2 separate regions of the Homo sapiens genome follow, and region 2 is reported to be linked to region 1. Evidence: microRNA targets listed by miRTarBase, many of them from high-throughput screens and not tested one by one. Region 1 holds a microRNA gene; the other region holds the end of a gene's coding sequence.
What was found. Region 1 holds the annotated microRNA hsa-miR-190a-5p (UGAUAUGUUUGAUAUAUUAGGU, at 1,171-1,192, opposite strand). A microRNA usually pairs through its seed, bases 2 to 8, with sites in the 3' UTR of a target mRNA and lowers its output. Matches are read on the target gene's strand: a 7mer-m8 pairs with bases 2 to 8, a 7mer-A1 pairs with bases 2 to 7 and ends in A, and an 8mer does both.

Region 2: miRTarBase lists PHLPP1 as a target of hsa-miR-190a-5p. Seed matches in the 3' UTR shown: 8mer at 3,465-3,472.

The regions. Positions count from the first base shown.
Region 1 is chr15:62,821,099-62,825,162 of GRCh38, reverse strand. MIR190A (microRNA 190a) reads right to left here and starts at 1,206; the gene lies at 1,122-1,206. The region is part of intron 54 of TLN2 (talin 2); the gene reads right to left.
Region 2 is chr18:62,979,076-62,983,139 of GRCh38, reverse strand. PHLPP1 (PH domain and leucine rich repeat protein phosphatase 1) reads right to left here. Exons shown (of 17, transcript NM_194449.4): 17 at 2,707-4,064. The coding sequence ends at 3,709. Among named protein-coding and RNA genes, the nearest start is that of PHLPP1, 270 kb to the right of the region's middle.

The sequences.
Region 1 (4,064 bases):
CACCTGCCAACACACACAGATCGCTTCTCAATGGAGAAGGATTCCAGAGACAGGATCCATTATGTAACTCCAGAAGCCAGGACTCCAACATTACAGGACCCTCTCCTGTGTCATCACCTCTCTGATGTTGCTGTTGGTGACCCTGTCACTATGCATTCACCTGTAAGCAATGTGGCAATGACTTCTAGACACAGTAAGGGGAAGCTTTCATGACTACCTGTTTAAACCATTTGCTTACACCTTTTCTCCTCCAAAACATTGAGAACAGTAGTTCTCTTTCCAGAAAGCAGTGCTCACAAAGTATTTTGTTTGTTGAGAGAACTCAGAATGAACTCACACATACTTCACAGGCTTTTCTATAAGGAAGAGGTCAAAACCAACCAAAGAAGGCTGTTATGTACCAGAAAAAATGTTTTCTATATCATAATCCCAAACTTCCTGCCACAGTCAATTAGGCTATGATATTACTTTCCGATTGTTGGCTTATTCTAAATATTACCAACCTCCACTGACAAGTTAACCTATAACAGGAAATTCAAGAGTTCAGTCAACATTATATTACCTTCATGAGATATATTTAGTCCTATATCCAAGGTTTGTACAAAGCTCACTGACTCAGTATCCATGCAGCTGGTATGGAGGATTTGCTTTATACATTCTGTTACTGTGAGTGGAAAGGGAAGTCATAGAAAACTGATCTGTGCTCCTTGAATTTTTGCTGAAACCCTGACATGAACTTCTAAATTGAAGATCAGGATAAAAATGAACCAAAATGAAACATGAATCTAGATGTGTTTGAGGCTATAATCCTGACCTTTATTCTGTGTCACAGACATGGGTTGGAACCGTTTTTTCCACCAAGCATATTGAATTCCTTAAGGATTCATCACTGCACAAAACTAAGCCACACAGAATACCCCAGGCTCTTATGAAACATCAACACTTATTGTTTCTATAATAAGCAAGTAATCCAGTAATACTGATACAGGTCTCAAATGCTATAAGAAGAAATGGAAGATAACATGAATTGTAATGAGTGCTCCATCTTCTAAATCTACTTGTGATTTTAACGTGTTCTTTCCTGTTGCCTTATAAACTTTATTAGGAACCCCCGGAGACAGGGCAAGACACTGTAGGAATATGTTTGATATATAGTTGGATTAAATAACAACCTAATATATCAAACATATCACACAGAGGCCTGCAGAAAAGGCATCCAGGTTTGACTGAGCTCGAGACTAGGCACAGTATTGAAGGTTACGGCTGCAGGGGGTGGTCACTTTTGCAGCAACTCCGATAACTGTCTTTGGAGCACAAGTCTGCCTGCAGATGTGGAAACGGCGCCATTAACAATACTGTCAGCACATGCACCAGCGCTCACTGACATTCTCATCTCCCCAGGTGAACAGCAGATTCAACGGTGCATGTCTGGGAGATCCCAGGCAAAAAGTGATGCTTAAGTTTTAAGAGCCTGAGGTGGAAATGTACCAGAATCATCATCAAAGACCATGAGCCATTCTCCTTTAAAAACAGGCAACCTGAGACGGTGGTGAGCAGAGCATTTTAGACAAAATTACTGTCTCTCCCCAAACTCTTCCTGAAAGCAGTGTGAATACTCCCCAGAAGGAACACACATCCATTTTATACTGAAGGCATGTGTGTGTACCAGGGTAGGGTTATAGGGATGTAATAAGCAATTGTTTACTGACAGTACCCTGAGGATTTTTTTAAGGTTTTGGGAGAGAATGGAGAGAAGTGATTCAACTCAAAAGACTGGCTGATTTTGGTGCAGATTGTTGTTATTGTTTTTTAATTGGGGAAATAAATTCCTTTATAAAGGCAAGGAAGATATTTCATGCAAAAGTTATTGCAATGTGCCCTATTAGGCACAAAAACTATGGTTTGGGTTGCAGGTTTTCCAAAACAGTTTCATAGATAATATCCACCTCTGGCCATCAGGCAGAGAAAGACTTCAGACCATTGTGAAGCATTCTAGAAGTACCCATCACCCTTCCTAATACGATGGGAGTGAGCTAAGGTAGGAACCCTCAAACAAAGGATTCACATCATCAGTTATGTTAACCTTGACCTTGGCCGAAGGACTCCTTGGCTTTCCTGTAAAAACCCTCAATGTAAACACAAAGGCTATATGATCCTAGAGTACTGTAGGGAGTCCTCACAGGCCTACTTCAGCAGTCATTAATTTTTAAGGTGCTGTTATTTTTTAAACCTTTGTTTTATAAAATGTTAAAACACAGACCCTTCCATCATCCCAATTCCATCATCATTCTTGTACATTCCCTACTTATTTTCTTCATCTGTGAGTTTTTAGAGTTGTAATCATAATAAGTACATAATTCTGCATCCTTTCTGTTATACCATGAGCATTTTCTTCGTGCTACACAGTCCTAGCAACCATTATTTTTCATAGCTGCATAATATTATAGCTGCATAATATTCCTTCGAGGAGTAGCTCTAAGGGCACACATAAACTACAAATGGCCTTTGTGGGACTAGACAAGCCTTCTCTGACAATGGGGTGGGAAACAGGGGCTGGTATGGACTGAAACTGCCACCCAGGGCCATACATAGCCCTCCCAGCTGAGTGACAGTGGTCGGACCCTGGCAAGGTAATTCGCCTCTTGGTGCTTCTGATTCTAATGGACTTTTTCCAAGGATCAGATGAGTGACTCCCATAAAGTACCCAGAAGACTGCCTGGCACAGGCTTGGCAGCTGAACAACGCGAGCTTCCTGGTTTTCTTTCTTCAGGGGCCAGTGGAATAATTTTTATTTCAGGCATTTCCTAGGGAGTAAGTCCCAGACACACATTTTCAGTGATGATGGTGATAATAATGGTGATATAGTTACTATCTACCAAGTCTCACTGTATGTCAGGCAGTGTTCTTATACTATCTTATTTAATTATTATAACAATAATCCTATGGGGTAGGAACTTTAATAATTTTGTTTTCCCATCTGGAGTCGTGAAGTGAACGACCAGACACGGGGAAACCAGGACTCAGACAAGAGCTCAGAAGGACCCTGCGGAAGGACAAAGGGAAAGACATTGAAACAGGAGCTCTTAGAATATGGTGAAGTGTTAATGTTAAATTAGCACCAGGCTAATTCTCCAGGAGAACGAATGTGTCAACTGACATGGCTTCGGCATTAGCGGACAGAGCCCTCCCCAAGAAAGGCCATCGTGATAAATCAGACAAGGAAATGGAAAAACATCATGCACCAAACCTCTAAATCTTAGTTAATGGTTGACTCTTAAGTTTAAAGTACACTTTTCATTCACGATTAACTTGACTGACAAAGCAGAAACAAAGGCGTAACCAGAAAATGGAGTTGTCCCAACACCCACACTTGGCTCTTACTCTGACAATATCAGGCAACCCAAGACTCCCAGGTAGAGTCCAGCAGAGAGAGCCCTGGTAAACCCCACAATCAGAAGCCCAAATCCTTAAGTTACATCTTGATGAGAAAACGTTTAAGTGCCTTTACCAAGTCCAGAGCGACTATTAGGAGGTTGGTTCTAAGCACTCGAAGGTTTTAATAATGTTCCCAAGCTGAACAGACTCAGTCTGTGTTTATTTCATACACTACACTGGCCCAGGCACTGCTTTTGAGTGGTCTGCTCTGTTTCAGGGCCCAGACTCCATCCCTTGGTCTTACAAAAATAGGTAAATTTTTAGGTATACCTAAATTGGTGGAATCCAGCCCTTTTTTGAGGGGAAAAGCCAAATATTATTTCCTAGTATATCTGGGTCCTTGGAAATAGATGAGTTACATGCACCACCAGGGACTTACTTGAATAGGAAGAAAAACAGGCCGCCTCTGGTTCTACCATTTTCCTGCTGAAGACAGCTATGGAAGGTGGGGTAGGAGGTATTAGCTTAACAGGATTGGGGCTTTGCCCCTGGAGACAGCACTAGCTTGTCATCCTTTTATTTAGAAAGTGTCCTTCCTCCTGCCTAATCTAAAAGTATCTCTTTCCTTTAAATGGCTATTTCTCTTCACATATACCTATAATCTTAAGTTTTAAACATTTATCTACATG
Region 2 (4,064 bases), not on the chromosome of region 1:
CTCTCCCAGCAAAACTATATGATTCTGGTTATCCATCTTAATATTTCTGCATGTCAATTTCCCATGGAAAATCAGGCTCATCACAGGAACCAGCTGTCATCACTTCTACTGTCTTACAAAGCGGAAACACAGCTTCTCGGCTATACTTGACAGTGGTATAGGAGTTTGCTATCATGTGTTTACGAAAATACAGTGATAAGAAACTTAAACACTTTGTTTCTTCTGGGAAAGTGAAGGAAGGATAAAGAGTGAAGCCCATTTCCACCCAAAGTCTAAGCTTACCAGCAGGTGGTGCTGTGACAAAAGCAATCAAGAGAAACCAAGGCAGGCAGGTGGGGTTTCTGGGTCCCAGAGATCGGCTCTGCTACCTCTCATCAAAGCCAGTGCTCGGGAGCAGGAGCGAAGGGCAGGAAGCTTGAGGGCAGCACAGGGCGGGCAGCATGCGCTGGATCCAACACCAAACAGTTTCTAGGGTCCTCGATCAGGGGTTCTTCTCCTAGCAAGGCTCACCACAGCTCTCCGCTTCCCGTTTCATTTCTTCCTTTCTCTCCCCTCAAAGCCCTTTCCCAATTATCTGGATTTCCAGCAGGAAGCAGGGAATAGAGCAGGCGGGAATGCCCTTCTCCCTAATACTTACCCTGCAGACACTGTGGCTTCAGGGATCTTCAAATATTAAGCACTTTAATATTCAGAAAGCACTTTCAGTTGTATAAGCAGCTCTACATATACTATTAGATGCTATCTGGATAAACAGAAATGCAAAGAAACTCCTCAGAAATAACTGAGGCAGCTCCTATGCAACCGCATGGAGACCTATCAGCTAAGTCTATGCCACTTTGGTCACTCAACATGTGCTTGACTGAATTACCTTTTCATCTAAATGCCCTACTTACCCCAAGCCTCCAAAGGGCAGTCTCACTCCAAGGTGCCTTACATGTAGTATGTGCACAATGGGACCGAAAAGAGACAATAAACCCAGCAGCAAGCACAAATAAACTGGAGGACTCAGGAAAAAAGCAATTCCAAGTCTCATACCCCTTTCTCCTGCAGCAGACACAGAAGTTAGGAAATGAGGTGTCCCTGCATCAGAGCTTGTGGGGCCCAGTGGCTGCCCCTGGCACAGAGTTGCTGTGGGGCCCATTTTAGAATCTGGAAGCGATTGCTGCCTCCGTGGACCACGCTCAGCCAGTTCTGACCACTCTGGAAGTGAGCTGCGGTGGAAGAGATCCACATACAAGGCCGGGGTGTGCTCCACCCCCGGGGACAGGTGAACCCTGCCCAGAGGGGGTTTAAGAACTGAGGAAGTCAGAGAAGCAGCCCAGACCTGCAGGAACTAAGGCGTCGGTGTGAGAGCTTGGAGTTGTCCACATCTGCTTCAACCCAGTGGGGCAGCCCGAGGGACAAGGTAAGGGGCTGGGAAGTGGAACCGGGGCAGGGGTCCCAAGGTGGTTTAGCTTCCAGTCTCAGCCAGAGCGCTCCGCCTGTACTGGGGAGTCAGCTTCCTTGGTCCCTGGGTCTCTCACTGGGCCGAGATGAGGCAATTCTCTTCCATGGCTTTAGTGGTTTCCAAAGAGCACTGTGTGCAAGTAGCCTGATGTGGAAATGAAGTACGGCCATTACGAAAACAAAGTCCACCCAGCGGCCTCCTAGAGGGGGACACAGAGCCCACCACCAAGTCTACTAGTTAAGAAATAAGAACTGCCCTGTCACTGAATTAGCCAGGTCCCACCCAAGGGCAGACCTAAAGAAGGAAGCCAGGTCTACATAGGAAGGTGGTCCATGTGAGATGAAGACCAACAGTATCTTCCACACAAGGTTCACACGTGTAGGGTGGGGGCGAGGTGAAGGCGGAGGTCCCTGTCTGTAAATGCAGTTGACTAGTAGCTGGGAATACTGGCTTTCTTAAGTACACACCGCTGCACCTACACGATTCCTGCTGGTGGTGGAAGGCAAGCCAACCAGCTTGATTGACCCTGTCCAAGTAAGAGGCAGGTTAACCTGCTTATGTGAGCTACAGGCCCCCCAGGAAAACTGAAAACTTCGCTTCGTGAGAGTAAAGTTGTCCAGGGATCTCCCCTATCTATGCAACCTCTGTCTATCCCCCTTCTCACATCTTCCCTAAGAAGTACCCAAACATCTTACCCTAAGTCATAAGAAGAAATAGAAAAGCTGTAAGATCAGGCCTGGCACAGTGGCTCACACCTGTAATCCTAGCACTTTGGGAGGCTGAGGTGGGCAGATCACTTGAGGTTAGGAGTATGAGACCAGCCTGGCCAACATGGTGAAACCCCATCTTTACTAAAAATACAAAAATTGGCTGGGCATGGTGGCGGGTGCCTGTAATGCCAGCTATTCAGAGGCTGAGGCAGGAGAATCACTTGAACCCGGGAGGCGGAGGTTGCAGTGGGCAGAGAACACACCACTGCACTCCAGCCTGGGAGACAGAGCGAGACTCCATTTCAAAAAAAAAAAAAAAAGAAAAGAAAAGAAAAGAAAAGCTGTAAGATCAGCTAATTATACTGCTTACCATTTGGTTAATTTCACATTTCATTCAATGTAGGTTAACTTACTGGATGTTTTTCTCTTAAAAAAAAAATCAGAAATATCTGATAACCCCAATATTCCATCCATTCTTTCTAAACGCAAGCTAGTGTGACTGTCTCCAAGAAACATCTGGCTGCTGAGACAAAAGCAGATACTTGTAAATACTTGTAAATTTCATATTTATTGTAACAAAAATTATGACATGTCCATTTGTGCATTCTGCTTGAGTATAACTCTGGGTATGTAAATGGCCTAATGGGGCACTATACAACCATGCTGATTGTGGCAGCAGTAAGGAACACAGTTAAAAGTGTCTGTCAAAGTGGGAAGGCTGGGACAGGGGAGGAAAATGGGTTCAGGGCCCTTGGGTGCAGGTTCTTGTCCAGTGGCCTAAGATCCATTTCCTCCGGACAGAAACACTGCAGCTGCTCAGCCTCCTCATTCAGTGAAGTGAGGGTGAGTTGTGAGGCAGGCAGGCTCCTCAGAGGGGAGGGGGAGGGGAAACGTCAGTTACTTGGGCTGTGTCCTTACGCCAAGACTACAAAACATCGTAAGCCTCACTATACAACACTGAGCTATTTACAATGGAAATTCTCAATCAGCTGTTCTCTCAGAGAAAATTAGTGAATCCCAGTGACTTAAGTCACCTGACAGAGTAAAGCAACTCCTAGGAGTTAGTCTCCATATTCTACAAATGTCTATTATTTTCAAGACAAAAACAAAACAAAACAAAACAAAACAAAACAAAAGCCTTTTCCCCCCAAAGAAATACAGAATTACAATATTATTAAATCATTTAGCAACGGCAGCCTGCCCTGCCTTCCAAACAAACAACAAAAAGCCATTTTAAAAAATATTACATTATCATTAACTGTTTCTCTGTAATATATTAAACCTTTTGTTCTTTGTCTTTACATATCTGATATGTTAGGGGGAGAAGTTAACAAATGTAAATCATATTGGTAAAGCATCACTAGAAGAAAGTGGTGATTACTTAAAAAAATAACCCAAAGAAAGAGAACCTACAGATTAGCTGCGATGACAGGTTGGGAACAGTGTCTGGGGGAAGGATGTGGAGTAAAACCCCTGGTTTAATGTGAGCCTGGGAGACTCTTGCAACTCAGTCTTTTGTGGTTAGTTTATTTGTTAAACAGCTCGGCTGGGTCATAGTGGCGTGTCGTAATAATCTGGCAGCTGGTCCAGCTGGTAGTGCCGCGGCAGCTGCGGCTGGAGCTGAGGGGGTGGTGGCGGCTGCTGCTGCTGCTGTTGCTCCTGGTGATGCTTCATGATTTCTTTGACCTCCTCTTCCAGCTCCGGGGGTATGATAAACTGATCATCAGGATCCGGCTGAGCCGGGGCAGCAAAATAGCCTCCAGGCTTTCGAAGAGGTGCGTCTGTAGCCACCTCTATCACATTGTGGCTCCTTTCCTGGGGCGCAACAGAGCCATTGGCCCTCCGGCGCCCAATGGTCCCAACGGCAGAGAAGTCTGCCTTCCTGGGCAGACCTGGCTCATCCTCGT